3 linked regions of the Homo sapiens genome follow. The protein of the gene in region 1 interacts with the protein of each later gene in a pairwise test. Each region holds a gene or a part of one and is shown on either strand. Other genes may lie near its edges. The genes, in order: RYR2, KCNN4 and CACNA1D.

Evidence for each region.
Region 2: the proteins of RYR2 (region 1) and KCNN4 come close enough for resonance energy transfer, tested with the Homo sapiens proteins (one study listed by BioGRID).
Region 3: the proteins of RYR2 (region 1) and CACNA1D come close enough for resonance energy transfer, tested with the Homo sapiens proteins (one study listed by BioGRID).

The regions. Positions count from the first base shown.
Region 1 is NC_000001.11:237,035,368-237,046,881, forward strand, and holds the start of RYR2 (ryanodine receptor 2), read left to right. Parts: upstream 1-6,816; 5' UTR 6,817-7,154; coding exon 7,155-7,202; intron 7,203-11,514. UniProt on the Homo sapiens protein: Cytosolic calcium-activated calcium channel that mediates the release of Ca(2+) from the sarcoplasmic reticulum into the cytosol and thereby plays a key role in triggering cardiac muscle contraction. Aberrant channel activation can lead to cardiac arrhythmia.
Region 2 is NC_000019.10:43,769,913-43,777,973, forward strand, and holds part of KCNN4 (intermediate conductance calcium-activated potassium channel protein 4), read right to left. Parts: intron 6,725-8,061; coding exon 6,629-6,724; intron 4,708-6,628; coding exon 4,280-4,707; intron 3,989-4,279; exon of another isoform or gene 3,988-3,988; coding exon of another isoform or gene 3,891-3,987; exon of another isoform or gene 3,885-3,890; coding exon of another isoform or gene 3,874-3,884; intron 2,224-3,873; coding exon 2,088-2,223; intron 1-2,087. UniProt on the Homo sapiens protein: Intermediate conductance calcium-activated potassium channel that mediates the voltage-independent transmembrane transfer of potassium across the cell membrane through a constitutive interaction with calmodulin which binds the intracellular calcium allowing its opening.
Region 3 is NC_000003.12:53,796,399-53,806,959, reverse strand, and holds part of CACNA1D (voltage-dependent L-type calcium channel subunit alpha-1D), read right to left. Parts: exon of another isoform or gene 9,177-10,561; intron 6,712-9,176; coding exon 6,595-6,711; intron 5,903-6,594; coding exon 5,535-5,902; intron 4,814-5,534; coding exon 4,787-4,813; intron 3,538-4,786; coding exon 3,388-3,537; intron 1,978-3,387; coding exon 1,814-1,977; intron 1-1,813. UniProt on the Homo sapiens protein: Voltage-sensitive calcium channels (VSCC) mediate the entry of calcium ions into excitable cells and are also involved in a variety of calcium-dependent processes, including muscle contraction, hormone or neurotransmitter release, gene expression, cell motility, cell division and cell death.

The sequences.
Region 1 (11,514 bases):
TAAATAAATATAATCCACCAAGTTGGACCTCTTAGCAAACTTCAACAGGTAAGGAGAATTTCTACTCAGATGGTAGATTTCTAGTATCCAGGAATTAGAAATGTATAGAGAGCATGGAGATTCAGGTTAGGTGTTAAAATGGGTAGCCAGGTGGCCTAGTTTAAACCAGACTGAGCACACTAAACTCTTTTTCCTGAAAAAAAGCAATGAATGTTCCCATTCGGAATGGGCAGGGTATGTATTGTGTTTGCTGTCTCCCTGGCCTCATCATCCAGCACCCTCCTGCTCCCTCCTTCGCTCTGCCCATAGTGCACCACTGCACTGCCCTTCCCTGCCCTCCTCGTAATCGTTCACACATGCCATGTACACTCTCAACTCCAAGCCTTCGCACATACCAATCCCTCTGCGTGGAGTGCTCTTCCCTTAGATAGCCACAAGGCTCATTCCCTGGCTTGATTCAAGCTACTGTTGCCATGTGACTTCATCAGGGATGTCTTCCCTGACCATTTTCTCTACAAAACTGGCCCCTCTGTTAACCTTTATCCTGCTTGCTCCTTCCTTCCTTCCTTCCCTCTTTCCTTCCTTCCTTCCTTCCCTCTTTCCTTCCTTCCTTCCTTCCTTCCTTCCTTCCTTCCTTCCTTCCTTCCCTCTTTCCTTCCTTCCTTCTCTCTCTCTTTCTCTCTCTTTTCTTTTCTTTTCTTTCTTGACAGGGTCTTACTATGTTGCCCAGGCTGGACTTGAACTCAAGCAATCCTACCACCTCCACCTCTGCCTCCCAAGTAGCTGGGGCTACAGGCCCGAGCTACTCCTCCTGGCTTCTGCTTTGTATTTTTTGATAGCACTCAATGCACCTGACATATACATTTACTTGTTGGTATCTAGCTCCTCCCCTAGAATAAAAGCCCCATGAAGATAGGGCCAGTGCTTTATTTGCTAGGACAAAGCCTGGGACACACGCAATAAACGTTTGTCGAATGAACGAACGAATAAAGGGTTCAAAGAACCTGCTCATGTCCTGTTGTTCTGTGAATACCTAGAAGACATTAGAGATGGGTCTCATGCTGGGACAAACTCTATGGACACAAGCGTTTGGAGGTTACTTTTGTGTTACTGAACACAGCAAAGTGGTTAGCACCCTGCAGTTAAAGAATGAACTCCACATAGAGGAAGGGATAAAAAGAAGAAAGGTGTTTCAAAATGGAATTTTCTTAAAAGGAAAGTGAAAGTAGAAAGGTATCTACAAAATGGTAAACAAGCAGTTCATGACCATCAACAGAAAGGATCTTAATTATTACCCATAAAGAAAAGAAGTATAATAAAAAAGTAGACACATTTTCTCTGCCTCTATGCAGTAGTTATTGCATTTGAGGGACATTACCCTTAAACATACACCTACAGGCCTGGGCAATACAGGATCAAGGGCTGTGGTTCACAGGAGGGAGATACAATCTCTGGCCAGAGTAATCAAAGCCCAGAAGGGGGCTTTGAACTAGTCCTTGAAGCATGGAGTGGATTTCAGCAGGATTTTGTGGCCCTGGATGGCTAAAGAAATAGCAAAAGAAGAGGCACGGCTGAGTAGCTTTTTAATCTGCAGAACAGTAGTCTGGTTGGGAGGCAAAATGGGAATACTAGGAAAGAAATATTGAAAAGGTATGTTTAAGGCTATATCGTGGGGAGTCTCCAAAGCCAAGCTGAGGGGTTTGAACATAACCTGGAGGCATCTGGGGGCCACCTTTCAATGGTTCTAGTTCTTATTGGGCAAGGAAGTGACAAGATGAAAACATTATTATAGGGGGTGGTGCTGGTGGGAGTCAGGAAGATGATTTGCACTGGAAAAGCATAAGAAACAGGAAGATTAGTGATGATGTTAGTGAAATTACTCTGGGATATAAAGACAAGAATCAGGAAAATGCCTTTTACTTATAAAAAGACACTGATGTTCAGTGGGAAAGGTGAGAGAGGAATCAAAAATGGTGATCAGAGTTTGGATTCGAGCTGTAGTACAACAGAAATAGGCAAATCAGGAGGAAGATCTGCCTTCAGAGACACGTGACAGTCAGAATGACCTACTTGGGAAGCCACTAGGCAATTTGAGTTGGAAATGAGGCTGGGGAACCCACATTTCCTTAGGAACCCATACCTCCTGATCTGTAGGGGATACATTCCAAGACCCCAGGGGACGCTCAAAACCATGGATAGGACTGAACCCTATGTATGCTGTGTTTTTCCCCTATACATACAAACCTAGGTTTAAGTTTAGTTTATAAGAGGCACAGTAAGAGATGAACGATGATAACTAGTAATAAAATAGAACAATAATAACAATATGCCAGCATCACTACTCATGCACTTTGGAGTCATTATGAAGTAAAATAAGGGATACATGAACACAGGCACCATGATACCGCGATAGTCGATTTGATTATTGAAACAGCTACTGGCTAACGGTGGGGAGTACAGAAGAGTGGATGCGCTGGACAAAGGGATGATTCATGTCCCGAATGGGACAGAGTGAGATGGTACAAGGTTTCATCACGCTACTCAAACTGGCACACAATTAAAAATGTAGGAATTGTTTATTTCTAGAATTTTCCATTTTAAATTTTGGAACTTTGAGTAACTGGAACTGCAGAAAGCAAAGCTGTGGGTAAGAGGGGACTACAGTAATAAGCAAACTTTTCGTCGGGTGGGGACATCCTTCTCTGTGATGTCCAGGGCTCCTCCGATGCCAAGAGGTAGATCATGTGTACTTTTTCTATCTGCATGTAGTTCAGTCCTGACCCTGGAAATCAGAATACTAATTGTAGTTTGGGGCTTCATAATTTGGAAAGGAACTAATACGATAGTGGTGAATAACCTTCAAGTCTTGAAAAACTGATTTACCCTAAGAATCCAAACTGCGGAGAAAGGCACAAATTGGATATTATTTCTGAACACATAGTAATCTCTGTCTCTTTCCAGAACTTACTTGGCATTCCAAGAGCTAGCAGGACCTGCTTTGGCCTGAAACCAGGGACAGATCTCCCGGGGCTGCCAGAGCCTTTTATAGTTCATGCTAGTCTAGACTCTTTTTTGTGCTTTCCGCTTTGGGATGGAGGTAGGGGAGGAGTATAAGTCCTCGGACCCCTGTGTCAAAACTCAGCAGCTGCATACTCTTGGCCAAGCTACTTAACTTCTTTAAGTCTTCTTTCCTGTTTTTCAAAAATGATATTGCTGCGAAGACGAAAAGAAAAAATAAAATGCAAGTGCTCGGAGCATAGTAAATGCTCAATAAATGAAGTTTCATCACCATCGTCATCATTCGTAATGTAATTTCTGGCCATCTTGCATTAATGCAGAGATTCAGGCCATGTGACCTGAGGACTGGCTTGTGGTGAATTTCCCAGGGATTTATTTCTAGGACAGGTGCTCATAAGAATTATAGTATTTTAGAACACATGCAATAAGGATGTAAATAAAATGGAAATTTTGTAAAATGTTGGTCTGTTGAGTTCTGAAGTGGGATAAGAAGATAGGTATGAAATGTTCCTTAGAGATTTTGAAACAGGAAATCTGAGTTAACAAGAAATGGGCTAAATCTCAGGACGTTAGAGGCTCTCTAATCCTAATTTTATAATGATTCGATGACAATTCCAGAGGCTTTCAAGTCAGTAATAAAGCCTTTAATGTATGTAATCTTAATTGAAAGGAGCTGAATTAAAATGATAACATTGAGTATTTTGCTGAGTTTCCGTAGAAACCTTGAGGAAGAAGTTAATTTTTTAAGCTCATGTACATCATTGGGGAGCTTAGTAAATTGTAAGTCAAAATGAAAAAGCTTACATTTGTCCTAATTTTTTTCTTCTTTAAGGCTGTCTAGCATCCTGCCAAGTGAATAAGTGGGCTACGATGGCCCATTCTTAATTAGATGACTGCAGAAAAACTCTTAATTAAAAAAGCAAAAATATAATTTTTCCCTCTCTTGCAGAATATAAAATTAGTCATAAAGAAGAATACTTCCCAAATTTGGACTAAGAAACATAGAAATGTCATCCTCTAAACTTTTTATTAATAATTTTATGATTAATAAAGATTTAAAATGTAGTATCTATTGAATATAAAGATTATATTATAATAAAGCAATATTAAGATAATAAAAAGCAAAATAAGCTATTATACATAACACGAATTTAGAAAAAGAGAATTTTTTTTTTTTTTTGAGATCAGGTCTTGCTCTGTTACTAGGGTAGTGGCTTGATCATAGCTCACTGCAGCCTCAAACTCCTGGGCTCAAGCAATCCTCCTACCTCAACCTCCCAGTAGCTAGAACTACAGGTTTGTGCCACCATGCCTAGCTAATTAAAATTTTTTTTTTTTTTGGTAGAGATGAGGTCTCCATTGCCCAGGCTCGTTTTGAACTCCTGGCTTCAAGCAATCCTCCTGTTTTGGCCTCTCAAAGCACTGGGATAACAAGTGTGAGCCATTATGCCCAGCCAATAAATATTTTAATAAAAATTACAAAATATATAGATATCAAATACTATTTTCTAATGAAAATTGTAAATAATTTTTTTCTATTTAATGAACTATAGTTTTGTGCCTAGAAAAAGGTCTACTTGTTAATTTCTTTTAGTCTGAGTCTACAATAAGAATTAAATACAGTAAACATAAACTTTAAGCTGTATCCAAATTTTATGTATTTTTTCTCAAGTACACTTAAAATTGAGGTTAGTTAGTATCCTATGATCTCTGCACTGGAATTCTTACTACAATTGTCCACCAGAAGAAGAAACTAGGGAATTATAACTAAATTATCCAAAAGGGTTAAATTTTTTTTAAAAAAGCTATAAGTAAAAAGTTTCCATAGCTTTCACTGAAGTTGCTTTCTTGTAAAAATTATTTTGTTATGTAATTATGAAATATAACAGAATATCAGAGTACCAAAAATAATATTCCACCAATATGCCCATCACCAGTATTAAAACACTTGTTATATTTGCTTTGGTTTTCTTTTTAAAAATAAATGTTGTATATCATTCTCAAACATATTTTTATACTTTTAGAACAGACTAGAGATCTATAAACCTCATAGTTTTGTATTTTTGTGTTTTAAAGTCCACATACACGGTGTGTTTTATAAATAGTCTCTGCTCTATGTCTACTTGCTGTTGAAGACTGTATGGGGTGAATAAGAAACATCGAGTGTCTAGGCCTTTTAGCATTATTCCACTTACATTGAGAGAACTAAAGAAATAATAACCATAACTCTTGCTAGAACAGTTTACAGCCTAGTTAAAATGCCAAAATGAAGACGTGGTAAGCGTTTTTATATTATTTTACCTACCATCTGGGTAGAATGGAGTAATTAAGAAACCTGTCTCTGCATAGTTCTGAATAAAATAGTTTAAAACGTCAATTTGATACGTTCTAAATTTGGAAGATCAAATCATTTAACATTAAATCAGGAGCCAATTTCAGAATATAGTCATTGCTCATGGAGGACTCTTACCCGACTTTTTGGGAGCTCACTGGTTGTTCCTTTAGAGACTCGTAAGAGTAAACATTCACATAAATAATAACGGTTTAAGAGTTGGTTAGTCGTCATGGCTACAGGGATAGGTCAAGTTTTTAGGTAAGGTGACTGGTATACTTCCATGAGATAGGGCAGAACATTACTAGTTCTACCACGGACAGCGAGTATTTATACACATATTGTCATTCTCCTGGAAATTTACAAACCTACCCCAGTAAGTACAAAGTTAATGAATGCTAAAAATAAAATATAAACTGTATAGAACTCAGTGGTCGATTTTAATAATGAGTTAGATGCCGCAGAATGTAAGATGTAGGTAAACGGACGCAAAAATCCTTGTTTTACAATGTCTGCATCTCCGTAGTACTGACATTTGAAAACTTTACTTTGCACATACTTATTTTAAGTACGATAAATGAAAGCGCTGTGGACTAGGAACAAGAGACAAATTGCTTTCTTGTCCAAATTGTCTCAGACCCTGTATTTTCTTAGTCATAGCCGTTTGTTAAGTAGGCATTTGGTAGACTATTGCATGGAGGATTGCGAGAGCAAGATATTACTATCTGCGGTGGAATGCTCGAATTTCTTCTCTCAGCAAGGATAATGGGTAGCACAGTCTGACTTTAGACCCATCCAGTGGTTCAGACTTATAGATAGTATCCCATACTTTACCGCAATTCCTTGTTGAATTAAGGCTTGCACTTCGAATACAGACTACACACTTCTGGGTCTGTCTTGTACCACATTGTCTGGCATAGGCGCTCACTGTATATTTGTTGAATGTTAAAGTTCTGTGCACCAAAACCGTGCACTTTGCATCGATTATCTGCGAAAAGCATGGTACACTAAAACTAGATCTTGAAGAATTCCCATTTGATCATGAATAGAGGTAATCCACGTTTAAAATACCAGGTGTTGCGTAATCTCTACTTGGAGATTAGCCACCCCGTGCGCCCAGGTGAAAGATATCATTCTTCCGTGCGATCCGAAGTGCCGTGGAAGTTAGTGCCCTAGCCCAGTCCAGGAGGAAGGGGCGTCGTGCCGGCGGTTTTAAGCTCGGAAGGGGCAGGGGAATGAGCCCAGGGACCCCAGCGGGGCGCAGGTAGGAGGCTGTGCGCTCGCCGGGTGCGCTCCGGCCCCGATTCCCAGCGCAGCCAGTAAGTGGCGCTGGGCCTCGGGTTTGGCGGCCCGGAGGAGCGGGCTGCGGATTACCTGCAGCAGCGGGGAGCCGCCGAGCTCCTCCCCGCCCGCCCCCACACCCCACCCCCACCGCTGCACTAACCCCGGCTCAGCTGGCTCCGCGCACTTGCTCGGAGGAGCCGGGGCCGAGCGGACCGCCGGCTGCAGGCAGCGAGCGCGGCTGGGCTGCGGGGCTGCTTCCCCGCGTCCTCCGGGCCCGGGCCGCCCTCCTCCCGCACAGTGCGGAGCAGGGAGGCCCCGCGCCTCGACCACCCGCGCCCGAGCGTCCGCGCCTCCTCCTCCGCTCTGCAGGCGGGGACCGCCCGGCGCTCGGCACCCGGCAGCGCGGCCCCCTCCAGCCCCCGGCTCCCGGCAGCAGAAGCAGAAGGCAGCGCCAGGGGCCGCCGCCGCCGCCGAGCTCCGCGGGGCTCGGGAGCCGGCCCCGGCGAGGAGGCGCGGAACCATGGCCGATGGGGGCGAGGGCGAAGACGAGATCCAGTTCCTGCGAACTGTAAGCGCCGTGCGTCGCGTGTGCTGTCAGGGGAAGGGGGCGTCAGGGCATCCACTAGCGGGGTCCGGGCAGAGTGACAGCGGGCAGCGGGGACTCGCGGGCGGGGCGAGGGGGTGCCCCCTGAGGATGCGGGAGGAGCGGGCATCACCAAGTGTGTGCAGGTGTGCGTGTTGGGGCGAGGGAAGGCAAGGGCGCGTGTCTGTGCGCGCGTGTGGAAAGCTAGAGGATGGAGCGCGGCTAGCCGGCGGCAGGCGCCCGGGCTCGGACCCGGGGCACCGGGGACAGGAGCGTCGGAGCTGCGGGAACCGGGAGAGGAGGGGACGGCCGGTCCGGCCTGCCTGGTGGCACGGCTGGGACCTCCCGGGCGGCCGGGGGCAGGGTGCAGAGCAGGGTGGCCCGTGGGGGCGCGGGGAGCGGCGGGAACTCGGGCTGTTTCTGGGAATACCGCCGCCGGGAGGTTTCTTGGGCTTTCGGGCTGGACCCGCGCGTTGTCACGGAGCGAAGACGTTGGTTCGCTTACTCCGTGTAGCGTGCGGCGCAGCTGACCGGGGGCGGGGGTGATGGTGCAGGACGCTGCGCGGAGGTTTCCCCCAAGTCAAGGTGCTGCGAAAGCGGAGGAGGAGTCGCCTCCGTGGTCCCCGCGGTTCCCGGGGCTGGTGCCATCCGTGGTGGTGCTGTGACCGCTTGCAAAGCGTGGAAGGCATGGGAAGCGAGCGTGTGTTTGCGTGTGTGCGCGCGCGCGGGTGGTGGTGGGGAGAACATCGTGAACGTGTCGTTCTCTAAATGCTGGCTTATTGCATGCCAAGTGAAGCAAAGTGTGTGTGTGTAAGTGTAAGGGCAGGGTGGCTGCCCGGGAAAGGTTGGCTCCACACTAATACAATTCTTTCTCCTTAAGTACCTCTTGGCACTGCTCCTTCCTTTCTCTCATTTGTTCGAACACTGCAGATACTTCCCAGGCTGAGGCATTGCACACCTCCAAGCTGGGACTGGAGAGCCTCTCCAGAAAAGAAAATGCCCTAACTTCCTGCTAATAATAACCTAGTTAGCATCCTTTCAGTCGTTCCTTCTCCACTTCTGTCCTCCTTCCCGAAGGATGTTCCCTTGCAGGATTCCCCAGACTTCCCCAACCTAGAACTGCAGCTTCTGCTGGTACTTCTTTCCTCAGCAGTACAAAAACAAAACAAAACAAAACAAACAAACAAACAAAACCACTTCCCGGTTACAGTTACCTATAATCACAGAAAATCGTAGATACGGTGGAATTTTGGAATATTAACTTTTAGGTGTGAAAATAGTCTTGATGTATTTGGGTACTAAACATATGAAAACAGCGAATTTGCAAAGGAACGTTGTAAACGACTGTCTCTTTCTCTTTTGTGCATTAAACGGACTGGGAGAAAGCTTTGGGAAGGATAAAAACCCAGGGTCCACATCAGATGACAACCTAATAGTAATCCAGTCTAATAGCTGCAGGTTATGCACCATTGCATATGCTTTTTGAAGTACTGTTGGCCCAAGACCGGGCTTGGAAGAGCCTCTTCACTAATACCTTGGTCACGGTGTATAAACCTGCTAGTAATACAGTTGTCTTTTTCATAGAAAATAGACTATAAGGGTTTTTTTTTTTTTAAGTAATTAACACCACATTAGATTTTTCTCAAAACTAAGGACTATTTTATTCAGGTGGACAAATACGGTTGCTGTATAATTTTTCAATCAATTCGTATCAAACTCTGTGGGGTTAAAACTAGCTGGGACATTTTGGTAGGCTTCATGCACTCAAGGGCTTCCTGCGGGCTTAACTGTTAAGCCGAGCTCATGGAGGTGGTGTTATCAGAATGCTTAATGGGGACCGAGGGAACGTGCTGGCTGATGAGGTTCTGCACATATCAAGTAATGTCAACTCTGTGCCACTCAGCAGCTGCCTGTCAGCTAGAGCAGCACCTTTGATAAGTGGGTCCTGGGTAGAGATCTGGCAGTCCCAGGCTGGGATTTTTCTTTTAATAAAACATCCGTAGGTTGCTGTGCTGACGACAAATGACCTTGAAGGAGGTGACACAGTGGAGCAGGGGGATTTTTTTTTTTTTGGTATAGCATTAACATCTAAAAGGAAAACATGCCTTTCCTCACAATTTTCCAATTTTCATATGGAAATTCTCAAATCCTTTACCGGCTTCTCCACCCATTACCCTCCATCCTTCCCTCCCCCACCCCCCTTTTTTTTCTCTTAACCTGAGAATGTTGGTGGTTCAGAAATGCTGATGGGGTGAATAATGGGGAGACTGTAGTATAGTTCCCACATTGAAGTCGCTTCTTTTTTTTCTGAGGGCATTTATTTCTCTGTCATGTGCAAGCTTGTCAATATGAGTTATTTCTTCTTCTTCTTCTTTTTTTTTTTTTTTAAAGCAAATAGCCCAAGGAGTATTAGGAATCTGTACATCTTGATAAAACAGTTGTAGATGGAAGAATTCTTGATAGTGATGGATGAAGCTGTTTTGCATAGAAAAACAAAAACAGTCATTAAGACACCGTAATTGTGAATTTGATGGGACATTTCATATGTCCTGATTAGAACATCTGGATTATTATCTTGAGCAGGTCATTGTCTATTGGATTTGTATTCAGCACCCCAGCACATTGAGGCATCTTTTTGACCACTGTCCACAGAAAGCTTTTTTGCTTTTCTTTTTTTAGAAGAGGTGTGAGATCACTGTTAAGGGAAGTAGAGGTGAAATCTTTAATGGGCTGTATCTGTGAGTTATGTATGCTGCTGTAAATTAATTCCTCATTTGCAAAGGGGTTTGTCACTGTTTAGCTTGTACCTGTCTCTCTGGCATCTCTGTTCCATTTGCTGCTGCTTGTCGAGTTGGCTCACATTCCTTCCAAATAGTTATGTAGATGAATGATCATTGATTCAGTGGCTCCCCCATCTGTTGGAAACCTGCCCACTTGGGTCTGTTTATCTTTGAGAGAGATTGAAAATATGTTTTTGTAAACTCTGGATATGCTGGGACACTTATTTTATGAGAGAAAAATCCTATCATAAAATAAGCTGTCAGCTTGTAATGGATTCATTCACTGTCATATCCAAACATATCCATGATTTGGAATGTGTGTTTTATTTTAAAGATTTTATTAACTTACCAATGTAGCATCAAACTGTCATTTGGCATTTAAAAACACGCATCTTTTTCGTTATGGTCCTCTTTTTTTTTTTTTTTCCAACAATCATACAGAATGTTATAGAAGATATTCCTCTGACTTTAGGAAAACCATGGTATAAAATGACCTTGGTCAAGGTTTTTTTTTTTTTTTTTTTTTTTTTTGAGTACTTTGTCTTTCTTTCATTTGTCTAAGCACAGTTGAGTTACCCTTGTGGTGTACTGTGTCATGTAGTTTTGTATTTACCCATAGATTGAGACTTAAAGCTTAGTCCTGGCTGTAAGAATGATCCTGATAGGAATGCTTACGGTCTTCCTCCTGTCTTCTTTTGCAGAATGAAGTATTTCATTATAGATTTCTTCTCAGTGTTCATACATCTTGTTCCACAATGACAAGAAGCATCTTTAAATATACTCATCTACAAATGGTGACAATTATGCAGTATAGATGCTGGTGTACAACACTGCATAGTAGTTTGGATGGGAATACTTAGCCCTAGTTTGTAGAGGTCCAGGAAGGTTAATGGTATGAAGTCAGTACTCAGCAGTGCAGAACGAGGACTAAAATTCAAATCTTAGGCTAATAGTGTTCTTTCCAGGAGAGAAAGGCTTCTTTATCTGCTGTTCAAGTATGTTTTAGGTTTATAGCAAAAGAATACCAAGTCAGTTTTCTCAGCTGTAGGAATGTCACAGAGTACAAAGGAAAAGATGGAATGAGCAGTGGAAATTCGCACTTTTTGCTCCCTTCATAATGAAGCTACGAGGAGCTTTAGATAGATATGCACTATGGTATTTTCCCAAGGAACTGATGGAAAGCCCACCCAGGCTTACATCATCAGACTTATTTTATTTTAACTTAGAAATTAGCATGTACACATTGGCAGGAAGGGCAAGATCTAAAACGCTTAGGGCACTAATTTATTTGACATTCAATTGTATTTGTACTTTGGCTTCAGATAAGTGTTTTTATCACGGCTGAATTACCCAAGAAAGGACTCCAGCAGCACTGGGTGACTGTGCTTCTTTAGATAGCTTTCGGGAGAGAGGGAGAGGTGATGAAGCACACATTTTTCCTGAAACTCTGACATTGTGGGAATTAGATTAATTCAGAAAACATTTGTTGAACACCGTCTGTATGCATAGCATGTTAA
Region 2 (8,061 bases), on another chromosome or scaffold:
ACGACCATCCCCAGTTAGCAGACAAGCAAAGAGGCTCAGAGAGGAGAGCCAAGGTCCCAGCTCAGAGCGGTGGAGCTAGAATCATAAATCGCATACGTCCGAGCCCAAATTTGATGCATAGCATTCACACCCTCAGGGTGGCCTCTTGAATGAAGGATAGGATTGGAGGAGTGAGAGGAAGGCTGGGTTCTGAGCCAGGGGCAGGCCTCTGGGTCCTCAGTGCTCATGTGGTCAGCCATTGCACTGTGGAGGGCGACCATCCTTCTCCCACTCCCACAACTTCTTCCTAGCTCCAGCCCTGTCTTCTCTCTCCTGGACCGTCTCCAGCCTCCCACTCATCCTCCCCTAACCCCCTTGGTCCCCTCTAATCTCCCAGGCTTCCACTGGCCTGAACGTCTCAGCCTGGCTCCCAAGGCCTTCCAAGGTCTATGCCTCCCACCTGGACAACTCAGCCCTGGCTCCATGCTGCCTGCCCTCCCTGAGCACCTTCCTCCGAACACTCATTCTCCTCCCTTCCTTCTCCCAATGCTCCTGGCCCTTCAAGGCCTTGGCAATTCCTAGCTGCTTGTGGCATCTGCTCACCTGTCCCCAAGTTAGAAGGAATCTTCCTAGGAAGCATCCCCAACCCTATAGTTTCAGCTCTTGATCACTCAGAACAACTTCCAGTCACAAACGCTGGCTCCAGGGGACTGCCTGGGTTCCAAGCCCAGCTCTGAGCAAGTTATTTAATCTCTCAGTATTTCAGTGTCTCATCTGTGAAATGGCCTCACAGGGTTACTAGGTGGATTTCATGAATTACCCCTGGCAAGTGTGTAGGGCAGAGACTGGCACAGAGTATGTGCTCCGGAAAAGTAAGCTTTTATGGCCCAACCATGCCATGGAGCCTTTCTTCCAGGAGCAGGCTGTGAGCTCAAGTGCACATCACCCTATCTCTCTAGGTTTCTGTTTCTCCTTTTGTCAAATGAGGGAGGAGGTCCTGAGCGGTGCTGCAGGTCCCTAACTGAGTCTCTGCCCCTCTTCCCTTGCTCCAAAGACTCACCACTGGGGGAGTGGAGGTCACCACATCCTTCACCTGTGCACCTAGGGATTGGGGGATGAATATGTCCTTCCTAGGCCCACATCTGGGCTAGGTGCTGGTGGCTTAGGTCCCCGAGGGTGAGGGGAACCCGATCTTGTAGGGAGGTGAAGGCCAAGGCATTAGGTGCTAGTCTCTAGAGGGGGCCAGGGCTGGGTGGGAGGACCTGAGTGACTGGGTCTATGGAGGGAAGGAGGTGGATGTCAGGGTTCAGGAAGAGGCTGACTCAGGCTGCAGAGCCTCTGCCTCATCCTTGAGGGCAACAGGAGCTGGTGTGGGGTGGCTGGATGCCTGGCCACCCCTAGACCTGTTTACTGAGCACCTCCTGTGGGCTGGGCACTGTTGGAAGCACTTTACGTAGTTGGACCCATTTAATCATCTCAGCAAGCCCATGAGGAGCATCAGCATCCCCATTTTATAGATGAGGAAAGTGAGGCCCCGAGAGATCACGTGGCTCGCCTGAGCTCCCCAGCCAGGAAGTGGCAGCCGCAGGATTCGGACCCAGGTAGCCTGGCCCCACAGGTATGCACTTGATAACTGGACTCTACACCCTTGATGGAGGCTGGGAGACGATTTCCCAGTTCTGGAAGAAAATGGGGCTGCGAAGTCAGGAGCCTGGGTCCCTGAGGAGGATAAGGGCTGGGGCCCTAGGTTCTAGAGAGAGCAAGGACTTAGGGGCTGGATTCCTAGGTCTGATTTTTTATTTTATTTTTTAAGAGACAGGGTCTCACTCTGCCACCCAGGCTGGAGTGCAGCAGTATGATCATAGCTCACTGTACCCTCAAACTCTTGGGCTCAAGTGATCCTCCCACCTTGGCCTCCCAAAATATTGGGATTACAGGTGAGTATCTTGTTCTTGAAGAGAGAATGGGGCTCTGGGGGCCCCAGACACTCAAGTTTCTCAGGAGCTGTCCCTGAGAGCCTGTGTTGAACCCATTTAATCATGGCTTCCTGGGGCCAGAGGATGACCAGTTTGGGATAGGGATCATGTCCCCAAGGCAGCTGTACTCACCATGACTCCAGTGCACAGGCAGACGATCTTGCCCCACATGGTGCCCGGCACCACGTCACCATAGCCGATGGTCAGGAATGTGATGGGGATCAGCCAAAGTGTGTCTGAAAGGTGCCCAGTGGCATTAACAGCCTGCCTATGGGGAAGGGTAGGTTAGTTCTAAAACCCCACCATAGAGGTTTCCATGATATTCACTCCCCTTCCCTCTATACCCTCCCATCCCCTTCCCTCTGGTTCCCTCCCTTCCCCTCCCAGTATACACCCATAGTCCTAAGAATCACCTGGACAAAAAGCCATTAAGTTCTGAGCTTTGGAAAGCCTGCATGGCCTCCTCTCTGCTGTGTGACCTGGGCAAGTTGCTTAGCCACTCTGGGATTTGAGACTGGGTCTGGCCAATCCCAATGCCGGTATGGTCTCAGCTAGGCTACCCGGGCTGCTGTAGCATTCAGAGCGTGTGGTTGAGGGTGGAGAGTCGATAGGGGGCCAAAACCCAGTCAGACCCTGACTGGTGGCTACATCCACCCAGAGGAAGGGGTATATTTTTCTAATTTCCACAAAGATGCTGTGTGGTCCAGAAGTGGCCCTATCAGGACCAAAAAGGACTCTAAAAAGGCTTGGTGGGACTCGGCCTTCCTTTCCTCTCACTTCACAGAGGAGACATTTAAGTCCAGCCATGGAAGGGGTTGAAACATTGAGATTTGTCTAACTTTGTCCACAGGCCCCTTGCCGCAAGACCAGCAGGGAAAGCTTCATTCATGAGGGCCCCTGACACCCCAGACCCACCGGGTTGGAGTTTCTAGGAGCGAAGATGGAATCTGTACTGTTCACAAACCCCACCCCCTCATTCCGAAGTACATTCTAGTTTCAGGACTTCTGCCTTGGAATGTGGAACTTTGACTTCCTCCCCATTCTCCCATCATTCAATTGAGAAACATGGTGGGGGGATCATTCATTAATCCTGATTCTGACCAATTTCCCAATTGTGAAAACTAAGATCCTGGAAGGTGAAGGAGTTTAAACTCATGACAGAGGGCGGGCATGGTAATCCCAGCACTTTGGGAGGCTTAGGCAGGAGGATCACTTGAAATCAAGAGTTCAAAACCAGCCTGGGCAACACGGTAACGTGGTCTCTACTAAAAATACAAAAACTAGTCAGGCATGGTGGTGCACATCCGTAATCCCAGCCACTAGGGAGGCTGAGGCATGAGAATTGCTTGAAGCCGGGAGGCAGAGGTTGCAGGGAGCAGAGATTGTGCCACTGCACGCTAGCCTGGATAATTGAGACTCCAGATCAAAAAACAAGAACTGCCAGGGAGACTACAGATGGTGGAACGTGACATGCATTTTTCAGATGAGGAAACTGAGGCTCAGAGAGGAGAGATCTAAAGCCAGATCTTCTCATTCTCCTCCTGCCCTGAAGGATCTTTGCCACATACACTAGACCAGAGGTTCTCAACCTTGGTTGGGCCATAGAATCACCTGGAAGGCTTGCTAAAGTGGATTGCTGGCCCTACCCTCCAGGATTCAGTAGGTCTGGAAGGGACCTGAGAGTTTTCATTTGCAAGTTCCCAGGTGATGCTGCTGGTCTTGAAATCACACTTTGAGGACCACTGGCTGAGATCACTCCCAACCTCGTTTTTCTCTGAAAGGGATAGAAATTGAGGCGCGGCATCGGGTTACACAGTATCTAGCTGGCAACCAGGATCTAGTTCCAATTCCCTGCTTGGAATTATTTTCCAGAGCAGTTCCAAATCATCCCCTTCCTAGGATCACAAAAAGCACCTACCTACAGTGCATTCCGTGCTAATTGGGAAAATATGTCTCCTTCCTCCAAGGCAGAGGCAACCCTTTAGGCAGGTCCCAGAGATAGGTTCGGAGACCGAACAGATGGCCTGTAAACCTGAGGCAGAGGTCAGGCAGCCGGAAGGGAGGGGCTTTCTAGGGTCTGTGTGTGCGTTTGGGGAGACTGAAGGCTGCAGGTGGAGGATTGGCTGGGGGCTTGTCTGTTGGTTCCTCTCACCCCAGTTGATGGGAGTGTGGGCAAATTTCAGCCAGCAAGAGGAGAAGGGGTCAAAGTGTGAACTTTCTCCACTGCTTGGTCCTAGGGGGCCTCAACCTGCACCGCGGCACAGGACGGCCGCCGTGGCTGTCCGGGGTTCCCCCCTGCGCATTTATGCCTCCATCACCCTCACCTCTCGGCCACGGACAGCACCCAGGCGGTGGTCAGCCAGAGGCCAAGCGTGAGGCCGAGCAGCAGGCGGCCAGGGTGCGTGTTCATGTAAAGCTTGGCCACGAACCAGTGGCGGAAGCGGACTTGATTGAGAGCGCCGATGCTGCGGTAGGAAGCGTTGAGCAGGACGCCGCTGCGCAGGAGCACGGCGCGGGGCACCAGGTAGAGACGCAGCAGCATGGCCAGGGACAGCAGCGCTTCCCCTTGGCCCAGGAATCCCGGCCAGGGCTGCGGGGAGGTCAGCGGCGCCCCTAAATCCTGCACGCACGGCGGGCCCCGCACGGGCGCCGGGTGCAGCCCACACACCACCAGCTCCAGCACGATCTGCGCCGCCTGCCGCCCGGTCAGCGCCACGCGCCAGTCCCGCAGCCCGTTGTCGGTCATGAACAGCTGCCGGTAGGGGGCCAAGAAGGGAGGGGTCAGGAGCAGGTCAGGCGCAGGTCAGGCGGCGGCCCGCGCCTGCCTGCGCCCTGAGATAAGTGGGGTGTGCCGCCTGGCCAGGAGGGAGGGAGTGCAGGGCGGGAGAGGGATAGGGAGGGAGCGGGACAGGACTTGAGGAAGACATCTTTCCACTTTTTCCTCCTTCCCCACCACCCACCCCACTAGTTTCAGCCCACTTCCAGCCTTTGAACACTGACTGAGCGCCGACTGTGTGCCTGACATTGTTCTATGTGCTAAGGATACACAGTGAACCCAACAGACCCCCCTGCCTCCCTAGAGCTTGCATTCCACATGCCTGGAGCTCGCTCCTACTCCCCTTTCGGTTGACACGCGTAATAACTGTAATAATAATATCAGCAATAACAAAGCCATGGGCCGGGCGCGATGGCTTACGCCTGTAATCCCAGCACTTTGGGAGGCTGCGGTGGGTGGATCACTTGAGGTCAAGAGTTTGAGACAAGCCTGGCCAACATGGTGAAACTCCATCTCTACTGAAAAATACAAAAATAAGCCGGGCATGGTGGCGCACACCTATAGTCCCAGCTTCTGGGGAGTCTGAGGTAGGAGAATCACTTGAACCCAGGAGGCAGAGGTTGCAGTGAGCTGAGGTCATGCCACTGCACTCTAGCCTGGGTGACAGAGCGAGACTCCATCTCAAAATAAACAAAACAATAACAATAACAAAATCAGCATGTACTGGGCACCGTGGATACGCCAGGTACTGCTCTATCCCGTTTACATATTGTGACTTAGTAAATGCCCACAACCCAGTGAGATTGATATTATTATTGCCCCCATTTTATAGATGTGGAAGCTGAGGCCCAGGTCCCTTCCATGGGCAATGGCGCACTGGGCTACAGGCTACTTAGCTACTCTATGATAAGATGATAATGTGCACTGTTTACTGAGCACCTCTTATGTGCCAGGCACTGCTCATAGAATTGCCACACATGGCCAATAATCCCCATTTTACATGCAAAGTTATGATAGGAGAGGGGGAAGAGGGGAAAGGGAATGGAGCAACAGGATCTGGGGCAATGGGACAATAGGGGATGGGATGTGTCTGGGTGAGACCCAAGGTGGGGTATGGATGGGGAGAGCTCCTGGGTCTGGGGCAAGAGGGAGGTTATTGGCACAGAGATAGGGTGATTAGGAGTGGGCACCCCTGGGACCGGACCAGGTGCAGTGGCTCAAGCCCGTAATCCTAGCACTTTGGGAGGACAAGGTGGGCAGACTGCTTGAGCTCAGTAGTTGGAGACCAGCCTGGACAACATAGTGAAACCCCGTTTCTACTAAAATACAAAAAAATTAGCTGGGCGTGGTGGCATCTGCCTGTAGTCACAGCTACTTGGGAGGCTGAGGCATGAGAATTGTTTGAACCCAGGAGGTGGAGGTTGCAGTGAGCAGAGATCGTGCCACTCCACTCTAGCCTGGGCAACAGAGCAAGACCTTGTCTCAAAAAAAAAAAAAAAAAAAAAAAAAAAAAGGAGTGGGCAGCCCTAGGACCTTAGGTTGCTTGAGGACTGGATTGGGGATGCCATGTCGGAGCACAGAGATCTGGGAAGCTGAGTGCCTGGGAGCAGAGTGGACAGAGGCCTGGGGGCGGAAGCAGGGCTGCAAGGGCACTCTCAGCATCCGTGAGTGTGCAAGGGGGGGCTGGGGACTACAGGGGAAGGCGGAGCTGGTGGGGGAGGCTCTGCCTGTCTGCTCATGGTTCATCCCATCTGGGTAGGTGAGGGTGTGGACGCAGCACCTAGGGCAGAAGAACTTCATTACTCAGATCAGGAGGAGGAGGAGGGTGGAAAGTGTGAGCTGACAGGGCGCTGAGGGGGTTGGAGGGAGCAAGGCTTAGGGGCGGGGCCTGCCCTACCTGGACCTCTTTGGCATGAAAGGCCACGATGAGGCAGAGGAGTAAGAAGGTGGAAATGCTGATCGTGCATTTAACCAGGAACAGGTAGAGCGCCCACTGTCAGGGGGGACGGAAAAAGCGGTGTGAGATCCCAGGTCTCCCTCCGCCTGGCCCTCCACCTTTCCTTCAAAACCACCATTTTTTTTTTTTGATTCCCAATTTTCCTAGCCTCCTTCCCCTGCAAATCAGTCCCTCTTGATGTGTCGGTTCTGGAGAAGTCTCAAAACCATCATCTGGGCCCAGTGCGGTGGCTCACACCTGTAATCCCAACACTCTGGGAGGCTGAGGCAGGTGGATCACCGAAGGTCGGGAGTTTGAGACCCCCTGGCCAACATGGTGAAACCCAGTCTCTACTAAAAAAACAAAAAATTAGCTGGGTGTGTAATCCCAGCTACTTGGGAGGCTGAGGAACCAGAATCTTGAACCCAGGAGGTGGAAGTTGCAGTGAGCTGAGAGATCGCGCCACTGCACTCCAGCCTGGGCAACAGAGCGAGTCTCCGTCTCGAAACAAGCAAGCAAGCAAACAAACAAACAAAAAAACACCATCATCTGGTCCCCAGGAATGCTCTCTTTCTCCCCAACAGGACAACCCTGTCCAGATGCTGGTGTCTACCCTCTTCCTCAGCTCTTCTCCCAAGACCCATACCCATGAAGGGGGACCTTGAAACTCACATTCCTTCTTATTCCTGTCCCATTTCACATCAAAAATAGTTCTTCAGGTGTGTGTGTGTGTGTGTGTGTGTGTGGGTGTGTGTGTGTGGTGTCTAGAAAAAGACATCTAGCCTCTAGAGAGTGCCCCCTCCCCTTCCCTTCCTACCCACCTGGTGTTGTCCTAGAAACCAACTTCAATCAACCCCAACCCCAGATCTGGAAGAATGTAGAAACTACCATTCAATCCTCAAAGACTGAGTCACACCCTTCTCTGCTCTCATCCGGAGGGCTGAGTCCCTGAGACCCAGCCTCAGCTCTGAGACAGCCCCCTCGGTTCTGCCCCCCTGCAGCTCCCCACTGCCACCCCTCTCTTCTGGCTCTAAGCCCAGGGCAGATCTGGCCGGAAGCACAGGGCCTCCAGAAACCACGGAGAAATTGTTCCTTTTTTTTTTTTTCCTCTCTTTGTGTGGCACAACCTTGGAGGAATCTAGAATTCTGGAGAGAGGGATTTAGAGGGGACTGGGACTGTTGGATTTCCTAAGAGGGGTTGGTCCCTGCCTGGCGGGTATTTGCAGGGGGAGGGGACCACCTGGGCGTCCTTACAAAGCATTGCACCTGTTTCTCCTAAGAGGGCTGCCAGCTCCCCTGGCTGGGCCAGCATCCCGCCTCTGAGCAGGGGAAGAGGGCCAGTTTCCTGCCCCAGGGGCCTGCTCCCCAACCCCCTATCAGAACAATAGTGCTGT
Region 3 (10,561 bases), on another chromosome or scaffold:
TGGGATTCATGTGCTTGCTTGCTTGGCCAAGTAGGCAGTAGACAAAGGCCGAGGCCCGAGGAAGGCAGTGGAACTCACAAGGGCGAGGGCCATCACCCGGCCTCACCTGCATCTGCTTCATCTAGTATTTATGGGAAAGGAGTGACTTCATTTAGCTGCATGTGTTCAGGGCTGAGGAATTAAATATTAACCATGGAAATGGGTCTGGTCACACTCCCCAGTGGGGCTGTGACAGTTGGAGTGAGGCAGAGGGCCCTGGGCACCTCCCAGTGGTGCTCTTTATAGTATATGCAGTTGGCAGACTCAGAAGCCGATGTGTCACGGCTATTTTTGGTTACTGATTAGAGTCCTGTTCAAAAATATGCTTCATTCCTCAGAAATTCCAGAAATGGATAGTCCTTAACCATCAGCAAAATGCCCACATGTCCAAAATGAAACTGTTCAGCCAAGGGCTGGAAGGGGCCAGGGCTGCACCTCTTCCCCCAGCTGGAGTTCCTTGCTCAGGATGACCCAGATCCGCCAGCTCCTGCCACCCACCGCTGCAGAGGGAAAGCAGGTGGAAGCAGCCAGCCCCAGCCCCAGCCCCTCTAGGTGGGATGGGTTTCCTGGCCCCAGAGTGAAGGGGACCAACAAGTCCAGAACCTGCCCCGTGAGCAGAGGGCACTGACAGACTTGACAGGAAGATGAGGGAGAAGCAGAGAAAGTGAGGGAGGAGGAGGGAAGGCAAGGGAGAGGAAGGGGGAGGAGGGAAGATGAGGGAGGAGGGAGGAGGGAGGAGGAGGGAGGAGAGGGGGAGGGAAAAGAAGGAGGAGGAGGGTAGATGAGGGAGGAGGAAGATAAAGGAAGATGCTAGAAGACGAAGGAGGAGGAAGATGAGGGAAGATGAGAGAAAATGAGGGAGGAGGAGGAGGGAACATGAGGGAGGAGGAGGAGGGAACATGAGGGAGGAGGAGGGAAGATGAGGGAGGAACGGAGGAGGAGGGAAGATGAGGGAGGGAGGAGGAGGGAAGATGAGGGAGGAGGAGGAGGGAAGATGAGGGAGCAGGAGAAGATGAGGGAGGAGGAGAAGATGCGGGAGGAGGAGGAGGAGGGAAGATGAGGGAGGAGGAGGAAAGATGGAGGAGGAGGGAAGATGGAGGAGGAGGAGGGAAGATAGAGGAGGAGGAGGGAAGATGAGGGAGGAAGAGGGAAGATGAGGGAGGAGGAGGGAAGATGAGGGAGGAGGAGGGAAGATGGAGGAGGAGGAGGGAAGATGAGGGAGGGAGGAGGAGCAGAGATGAGGGAGGAGGATAAGGCTTGGAGGGGCCTGAGGACAGATGGACACCAGAATGCCCAGGTGGCCCTCAGAGGCATGGGGTTTTGCAAGACAGGCCTGCGGCACAGCCAGCTCTGCACTTGAGCCCACTCTTCCCCTTTGGGGGCTCAGTCACCCCATCACAGAGTGCAGCAGGGCTGACAACAGCAAAAGCATGTGTGTGGTTTGCCTCCCTCTCAGGATGGTCCCAGGTTCAAAGACAATGCTATGTATGCAAAACACCCCTTACCAGATGTGTGCGTGCAATCTTAGGGCCCCACAGCCTCTCTCTTCTCAAAGAGAGTCAAGCATAGCACTGAAGAGGCTAGAGCTCTATCACGTGAGATATGGATGAGAAAGGAAGGAAAGCAGACACACTCTCTGGCTGGGGGCTGGTCTTGAGGACTAAGGATCCTGACCTGGCAGCACACATCCATCACCGGCCCCCAGAGCGGGGGTTGGGGGAGAGGTACACTGTTCCCCGGGAGGTTCCACCCAAAACAAAAAATCTGGCCTCACATGCTGGGGTGGGAGGTAGTAGGCGTCTCCTTGGAGATCTCCGTGAATCATAGCAAACGGGCGAGTCATCGTCCTCCAAGAATCCTTGGGGATGATGGTAGCCTCGGGGCCTCTCAGAGTCGATGTTTCTGCCTGGGTATCTGCTGTAGTAGCCATAGTTTTGCCTGGAGGTCAGAGAGGAGGGCAGTAAGGTTCTAGGTAACAAGCTCTGTCACTCAACCCTGCCAGACTGACATCCATACTCCTCTCCCCGCCTCCTCCCTTGGACACAGTAGGATTGGCTGAGAACAAGGCTGGCCTCAGTTTCATGGAAGATTCCAGATGGAGACCAAGGGCCATTACAGGACTGGAGGCCTGTGCTGAGGGATGTGCTGGCAGTTTTGATCCCTCAGCTCCAGGGCAAATGTGGATCGCAGATGTCCTGTGAGCCAGGCTCTCACCCACTCATTTCCTCCGTGAGAGCCCCTCTCCTGAGTGCCTTCCCTCTGCCAGGTGCTGGGCACCAAGGACACCAAGATGCATGAAGCATGAGCCCCACCCTCAATGGGCTTAGAAAATGCCATGAGCACACAGAAATCAAATGCGAGCTGGAAAGGGCCAGTGCTGGAAGAGAGGAACTCATGCGGTTCGTGAGGTTTTCTTTTCTGGGGGTTGGGGGAGGGATTTCAATTCCAGTCATGGAAATAAAAAGCAAGGCCCTAGAGCAGGCCCTCGACAGGGGGGATGAGGCCAGCAGACGGAGTGAGGGCATCCAAGCAGGGGCCACAGTGTGAGCAAAAGCCCTAGAGAAGGGAACACGAGTTCATCTGGCTCAGAGTCAGTGGTTTCAGAAGTCAGGCATTTGAGAGAGGCACGGGGAAGGGCTGCGGGAGCAGAGGGTGAGGGTCAGGCTGTGGCTCAGATGCCAGAAGCCACCTCACTGCCATTCCACTTCCACTTCACTGGGCCCCTGGTCACAGTGAGGTGCGGTTCAGAGAAGAGGGTGGAGGGCGATTTTCATCCGCCTGTGCCGCCTGCTACGCCTCCTAAAGCAGAGTGCCCATTGTACTAACAAACATTCTTTCTGTAGGACAGAAGCAAGATGGACCCCTCTGCTGAGTGACCCCTCATTTCTTCATCTCCCCGAGAGACCCCTTGAAGTGGCAGGAGGCAGGTGCTGTGCATGAGGACCTGGCCCAGCTCCAGGCTGGCCAAGCCGCCGTCCACACAGAGCCCTGGGGCCGCCAGAGCTCCAAGTGTTAATTCAGCAAAAACTGATCTCTCCAAAGACGGGTGGTGGAAAGGCATTAACCCAGCCACGAAGCAGGCCCATCTCCCATTTCCCAAGCCTTCACTAAAAGGCCTCAGAGGCCCCTAGTGGAAATAAGGCAACAGGTCTGAAAGAATAGCCCTCACCCTGCCTCTCTGCGGCTCTCTTTCTCCAGCTCCACTCTCCCTCTGGCCTGGAGTTTCTGCTCCCATTTTGCTTTTTAGGGGAAGCCCAAGTGCAGCTGCCGGTGGCCCTGGCTTCCGGAGTGGGCCGAGCACCAGGGCAGGGCGGCCTCCCGCTCTCCACAGGAGCCAGAGCAGCTCACCTGCTCCAGGTGGGCGAGCTGTCATCCTCGTAGCATTCCTCACTACTGAAATACTCCTGCTCCCCCAAGCAGTGGGGGTCCCTGAAATAGCCATGTATCTCTGGGTCTTCCCGGCAAATAGTTGGGAGCTGTTCATCTCCTGAGTCGGACCTGCAGTTGGGAGAGAGGATCTGAGAACCTGGGCAGGCGGCAGATAATTCCTGCTGCAGCTGCACCTCTGCCTGTGGCCGGCAACCCTGCCCGGGTGCTCCTGGCTTCTCCCAGCGCGCACCTGCCTCAGGCAGCACTGGACTGTTCCGGCTTCTGGCAACAGCACCGTGTGTGTGTCTGTGTGTGTGGTGTGCCTGCGGGCCAGGATAGGGTCTCTCTCAGTGCCCTGCACAATGTTGGTGTCAAACCATTGTGTCCAGAGGCCTTGGAGCCAAAGGAATAGGTGCAATTTGGAGAACAGAACAAAAAAATGGACCTAGGGAAAAAGACCCTGGGTTCCCAGGGCATCTGCTCTGATCCCTCCCTCTCCTTCTAGTCCCCCAGCTCCAGCCCAGTGTGACTTCAGAACCTGGAACAAAGGAGCTTCCTGGCCACTGACCTCCTGCTGTATCAAATCAGGAAGGTCGAGTGAGTTCTGGATACAGTGCCACAGGGGAAACTGTCACAGAACATGTCCACCATGTTTCCAAAGGCTGCCCTGCCCCAGGAATGTGGTAAGTCTCCCTGAAACCCGGCTCATCCTGGCCTCAGTCCTCAGAGAAGGACGTGGTGATGTCAATCCTCTCTCCAAAGGAAGGATGGCACTTCCTCTGACTTCTCCACTTTCTTGCACCCAACTTGGGCCCACATGGCTCCCGACTTCACTTCATAACATGACACAGGAAGACCCATCCTCCCTTGGCCCCCAACAAAATGGGCATTCCGCCCACAATTCAACTCAGGTCAATACATGTGGAGTGGAATATACTACACATATCTTGAGGGCTACAGGGAAAATGACAAGATCCCATTCCTGACCTTCAGGAGGTTTGGGTCATGCTGCAAAGCACCCACAAGAAGCTTGACCCCAGAGAGCAGCCGGAGCTGCCAGCCACACAGGCTGAGGCCCCTGTAAATGCACAATGGATGCTCCTAGTGCCATCGCGAGGCCTGCAGGAGCCAGCCCATGGGGTGCACCTTGTGTGTGGACACCAGTCCTTGGATGGCAACAGAGTCGACAGAGATATGGATCTGAAGGTGCCTTTGCTTAGAAGCAACAACCTCTGACCTCTGAGTCCACAGCCATGAATTATGATAACCTTTAATAGGCTGGCTCAAAGAAGTGTTTCTCATTCTTCAGCACTCAGAGAGGCCAGCTGGTAACATACCATCACAGTATTTAACACAAAAACAGGTAATGAGCACATACCTAATGTAAGTTTCATAATAGCGGGTTCTATCCAGGAAAGGCATAACATGGGAAGGAGGGAGAAGATAAAAGTTAATTTCCAACCAAATTTACAATGCAAACATCAGGCTACCTCCTAGAGTAGGGGTTAGCAAATTATGATTCGCCATCCACATAGGGGCTGCCACCTGGCCTTGTATGACCCATGGGCTATGAACGGGTTTTATTGTTATAAAGGATTGAAAAACATAAAAAAGAATCTGAAGACAAAAAATATCTCATCATATGCAAATATATGAAGTTCAAATTTCAGTGACCATAGGGAAATTTTAATGGGCACAGCCACACACCCATTCACTTACATATTTCACACTGCAACGGCAGAGCTGAGAAGGTGCAAGACTGTATGGTTCTCAAAGCCTAAAATATTGACTCACTGACCCTTTAGAGAAACAATTCACCAACCCCTGTCGCACAGTATGTGAGCACAATTGAGAGGTGGATTTTGTGGCTGCTGCTGTTTTAAGGTCCCTCGGCACCCCACACAGGATGTAGGATGGCACGTGGCCCTTATCCTTTAGGTCCATCACGTGGAGAGTGTCAGAGGCAGCAGTGACCTGGGGGGCACTCACAGATCCTGACACAAATGCCTACGGGGAACCTCCTCCATGCCCCAGAGCACAGAGCACAGACCCGCCTTGCTCCTTGGGACTAGACGCAACACGGGCAGACACCACATGAGCAAGTCCAAACACATTGTCAAGGTTACCTTTTCACACTGGACCTTCTCTGAGGCTCCCGGTCATGCTTGTGGGAAGAATGATGCCCATTTTCAGACACATGCTCAAGGTTCCCAATGCTGGGCCGCTTTCCATGGGCAGCTTTGGACATATTGGCATTATTGAGATTGGCATTTGTTGAGGTGGGAACTTGCTTTCCTATGGAATTATGGTTATGATGGTTATGACACACCGAATTTCCTGCTGGAGGAAACAGCGGTTTCTCAGTATCACTTGCAGGTGGAATTGAAGGCCTTTGGACATGCAGGGGACGGTGGGTGGTATTGGTCTGCTGAAGGGAATCTCTCCTATCACTATTAACATGATTGACATGGTTTCCAAGCAGGGCACCATTTCTCTGCAAAATAATGGGAGACAACACCAGGTAATTTAACAAGTATTTGATGCAGACTAGCTATGTTAGGTAACTTTTTCTACATGAAAAACAAATTCTAGGCAAGCTCCGTAGGATCCCTGTAAAACAATCTGAGTGTCTCAATGATCAGGGTGAATGTGACTGTGTGGCAGTTGGTCCCCCCGAGATGAGGAAGGTTACCGATTTCCTGAGCTGGGGAGCAAGCTGTCGGCTGTCACTCGAGTGTGCTCTTCCAGTTGCTCCAAGTTGGGGTGACTTATACCCAGCTGGGCTGGCTGGTGGCCCCAAGGTTGGGCATGCTCTCTGGGCTGGGGGACTGACAGCCAGCTGGCAGATCAAAGAGCTGGCCCGGGAAGGAGGAGGGTAGCAAAGGCAGCTGCCGGAAGGACTCAGGATGCTCATCCACAGGGCCAGCGGCTGTGGCCGAGCTCCTCAGAAGCAGGCAGTGAGGGGAAGCTGGGTAAGCTCAGGGAAAGAGCTGGCCTGGCCCTAGAAGAGGTGCTGATGCCTGGGGAGGGTCTGTAAGAGGGGGAGGGTGTGGTCTGAAAGCCCCTCTAGGCCCTGGGGATGGGCTGCATTCTCCAGACTCTTCTGTGGATGATTAACTGCCCAAACTGGAGTCCTGCCCTGCTATTTCCAGATGGCCAGTGTGTAGCTAGGCGTGGAATAATTACTTTGAACACATCATCTTCTTCTTCTCGTTTTGTTTCCTCAGGCTCGTCATCTTGCAAATCACACGATATAGCACGCCGGATTTCTGGCCCAATGTCATGCAGTGTCCTTAATCCCGCCTAGATCAATGAAAATGGCAGAACAGGTTAGACCACACATGGGCCCTGGGGCCAGCCTGGGTCCTGGCTTTGCTCCTTCCTGATTCAGCGGTGGGGAGGAAGGCTTCCCCAAAAGCCAATCCAGGGCACTGACTGATGTCACTGAAGGCAGTCTAAGGGTTGTTGGTATGGTCAGGCATCCAGAGGGTCAAGAAGGTCCTAGGTAGGATGCCTGAGGCCTGCAACCCCGTAACCTCCTTTGCAAAACCCCCACTTCCAAGGAACACTGCCTGGTTACTAGTGCTAGGATCTGCCAGGCCAAGAGCTTATGCCCCTGTCTCAGTGACAGTCTTCAGTAGGCTCGCCTACAAGAGCCCTATCTCTCCAAGCCCAGAGCAGGGCAAGGAGCACAGCCTGGCCGATCTAAAGGGAGGCTGATGTGGACTCCCTTGCTGCATCTAGGATGAGGAAGCCTAGGTGTAGGTGCCAGAGGCACAAGCAGACCAAGCAGTCCTCAGGCCACTGGTTCTGCTAAAAAGCCATGGAACGAGTGAGTGACACAACACACTGCAACCACCAGCACACTCGGACCACGACGGAGCAGACTGACACGCACACCGACCCGGCCACCGTGGTCATCAGGATACCCTGGCCTGTAGCCTGTGTGCAGGCTGAGAACTCACCAACAGGGGGTCCGCTTTTTGAAGATCACAACAAACTGAAAGTGGCTTATCAGCCTTTGCAGGCAGTGCAAGACCCACCAGAAGACACCCCTGGTAGATCCCTCTGGGCCCGTCACAGATACTCTGCATCTCCCCTGGCGCCCTCACAGCTGCCTTCCTCACTGTGGTCCCTGCTATGTTGAGACAGGGCCCAGGATAAGCCCTTCCATTGTTCATGACTTCATTAGGGAAGCATTCCAAGATGCTTATGCATGGTGCATGGAGGAAGGTACTGCTCCAGCTCTGAGAGAATGATGATGTTTTGACCACCAGTTTGAAGGAAAACAGTATGCTGAGTTAAAGACTAATAGGGACTGTATGGCAACTTTATTCTTTTCCACAGAAAGTCCTGCATCTGAAGAAGGCATGTCCTCTCTGCCCTGGGTCTACGGTCCTGTATCCAGGCAGCCCCTCCTCACTCACTGGCAGTCTGTCCACAGCTCTGTAGCCCTAAAGGCCTGGAGAACAGCTAAGACAATGGATGTGCAGCAAATGCTTCAACCTCAGGGTGGTTTGCAAAGGAAAACTGGACTAAGTGGTGGGTCCTCGGAGAGGAGACCGCTTCCCTGTCCTTCCTCCACAACACCTCTTAGCATGTGGGCAGCTGTGGCAAGGACAGATAGGCATGATGACCATCCCTGAGACAAGCATGGGGTAGAACAGATGCCCAGAAGTGGTTCAGGGAGGAGGAGGGGATGGTGGCTGCAGTCTGGCCAGATCCATCAGGGCTGGGTCCCACTGGTCTGGGGATGCTCAAAACTGGTCTCCTGCAGTTGCCAATGCCAGTGCTGGTGATGATAATTTAGAATGTAAAGTCACACAGGAACTTCCCAAGAGGCCCTTATAAAAATAGCCTGGTGCACAAAAGCACCAAGCCTTTGAGACAATTCTGCTAAAAATGGTGCCAGGTTGGGTTTGGTTTGAACCATTCTGTGAAGATAGAGCAGCAGATCTTTCCATTTAGTGAATTCTGAAGGTGAAGGAAGAGCTGGGAATGAAAGCTTTAAGCTTCCTGACTAGGAATGCTGAGATCTTATAGGGGACAGACAGTCATGTCCCGGGTCAAACCAAGACAGTTCTTGGGGTGGTCAGGGAGGCTGCTTCTTGCTCTCCTGTCCCTCTGATCACAGGCTCAGGATGCATGTGTGTACACATATGCACATGTGGGTATGCTTGTGCATACACGTGCGTGCACGTGCACACACACACGCACACACACGCACACACACACACACACACGCACACATACACACACTTTCCCTCTCTCAGGATCCACGAGTTCAGCACATCTGAGCCTGGGAAGTCATTTGGTTCTGAGGTGGACCCACCTGCCATTCTCATGGAAACATCAAGAAGGCAACTGTAATGCTATGTTGGTAAAAGCTCTTACACAGCACAGCTGCAGGAACGTGAAGAAAGGTCATACCCGGCAGTACTAAACAGCCGCATTTCATTCATTCAGAGCTTCCTAGGGTACATCATCAAGGGATGGTGAGCTAAGCAAGGGGTTCACTTCTGATTTTGGATCAACTGGGAAGAAAACTCGGTTACATATCTAAGGCTCCCAAACAAAAAGACAAGGTTTAAGACACCTGCTGCTGCTTCCACAAAATAAACATAGGTTATAATGCACTTAAGTCAACACCCCCAAGTAAATTTGGTACATTAATCCATATTACAAGGCAGTAAAGGCCAGAAATGCTCCCAAGTTTAAACAACATATAATCCTATTTACTGTCATTCAACTGATTGGACTAGGTCTGATTAAAAGAAATAGAAAACTATTTATTTGGATAATTTTTAACATCATCCTCTGTTGACGGGTTGACATTTCACTGAAATACACATATAACATAATTGCATAATAGAAACAAAAACTGTCTCCAGCACATCTTCAGTGATACACAAGATTAGGATTTAGTCGACAAGATAGTGCAATGAACAGACATGGGACAGAGAATTTGTTTGCAACATAAATCATGGAGAAGGTTGAAAGGTGGCCCAAGTTGCCACTTCCAAAGACAAATAATGACAACATATTTATTAAAGAGACATTAGAGGAGGAGAGAAGAATCGCTCTTCCCAGACACAGAAGCAGAGAGTCAGAAATCATGATTATATTCTGCTTGTTCCAGGCAGGAAAAAACAGACCTCATAAGAGTCAGGGACTGACTCTACTTTTTCACATGTGTTCTGGGTAGGGCCAGGTCAGGCTGTCCCCCACGACTGGGAGTGAGGGAAACAGATGTTCCCAAACTAGAATTGACATGAAGCTTAAGCACAGCACCCTGAATTTATTACATATCACAAAACATGGTAATGAAGTTTTTCTAGCACACATATCAAGCTAAAAGGTAGCTTAGGCTGCTCCCAAAATTCCATAGGCACAAGTTCCAATCCCCAGAAATACAGAAAACTATCTTAGACTCTTGAAAAAATTACTTTTCCACAGCCCTAAAAAAAAGAACATTTTTTTTCTTGGGATAAACACTTTACAAACAGTAAAATTATCTATTCTTTCATATCTCATATCTGTGTCTACCTCTATCAGCAAAATACTATTTTAATTTGAAAAGTGGTCATTAGCACTTAAACCAACACAATTAAAGCCATATAAAGTCATTCCATTAACATCACAGCAGAAATATGGTTTTGAAGAAACACAGAGTTGCTATAAAATATAAACATTATTGACTTATTTTAAGATGTCCAATCTTATAAAATATTAAACAGAATCAAGCCTAGTTTCTGGTTGATTTTAAAATGCTAGATGTTATCATAAATAATTTTTAGAAAAGAAATGTTGGCGCTTTGCCTGTAGACTGCTGCTTAAAATTTTAGACACCATTTAGTTGGAATTTCATAGATATTCTATTGAATGATTAAGTTACCAAAAAAAACTAAAATGTCTCAAAACACTTCTGAATAGCATAATATGATGACATTTTGACATCAAATATGAACACCCATTTACCTTTCTTTCTCCTGCCCACTTTTAGGGTTAAGTTTCTCCTGCCTAGATGCATTTGCAATGCTTTTGCTGCCTGTGTCCCTAAGCTAGCTCCATCAGACACACCAGCCATCTGCCAGCCCTCACAGCGCCACAGCAAGCATGCACAAGTGCCCAGAGCCCCGCCCTGGACCTACGC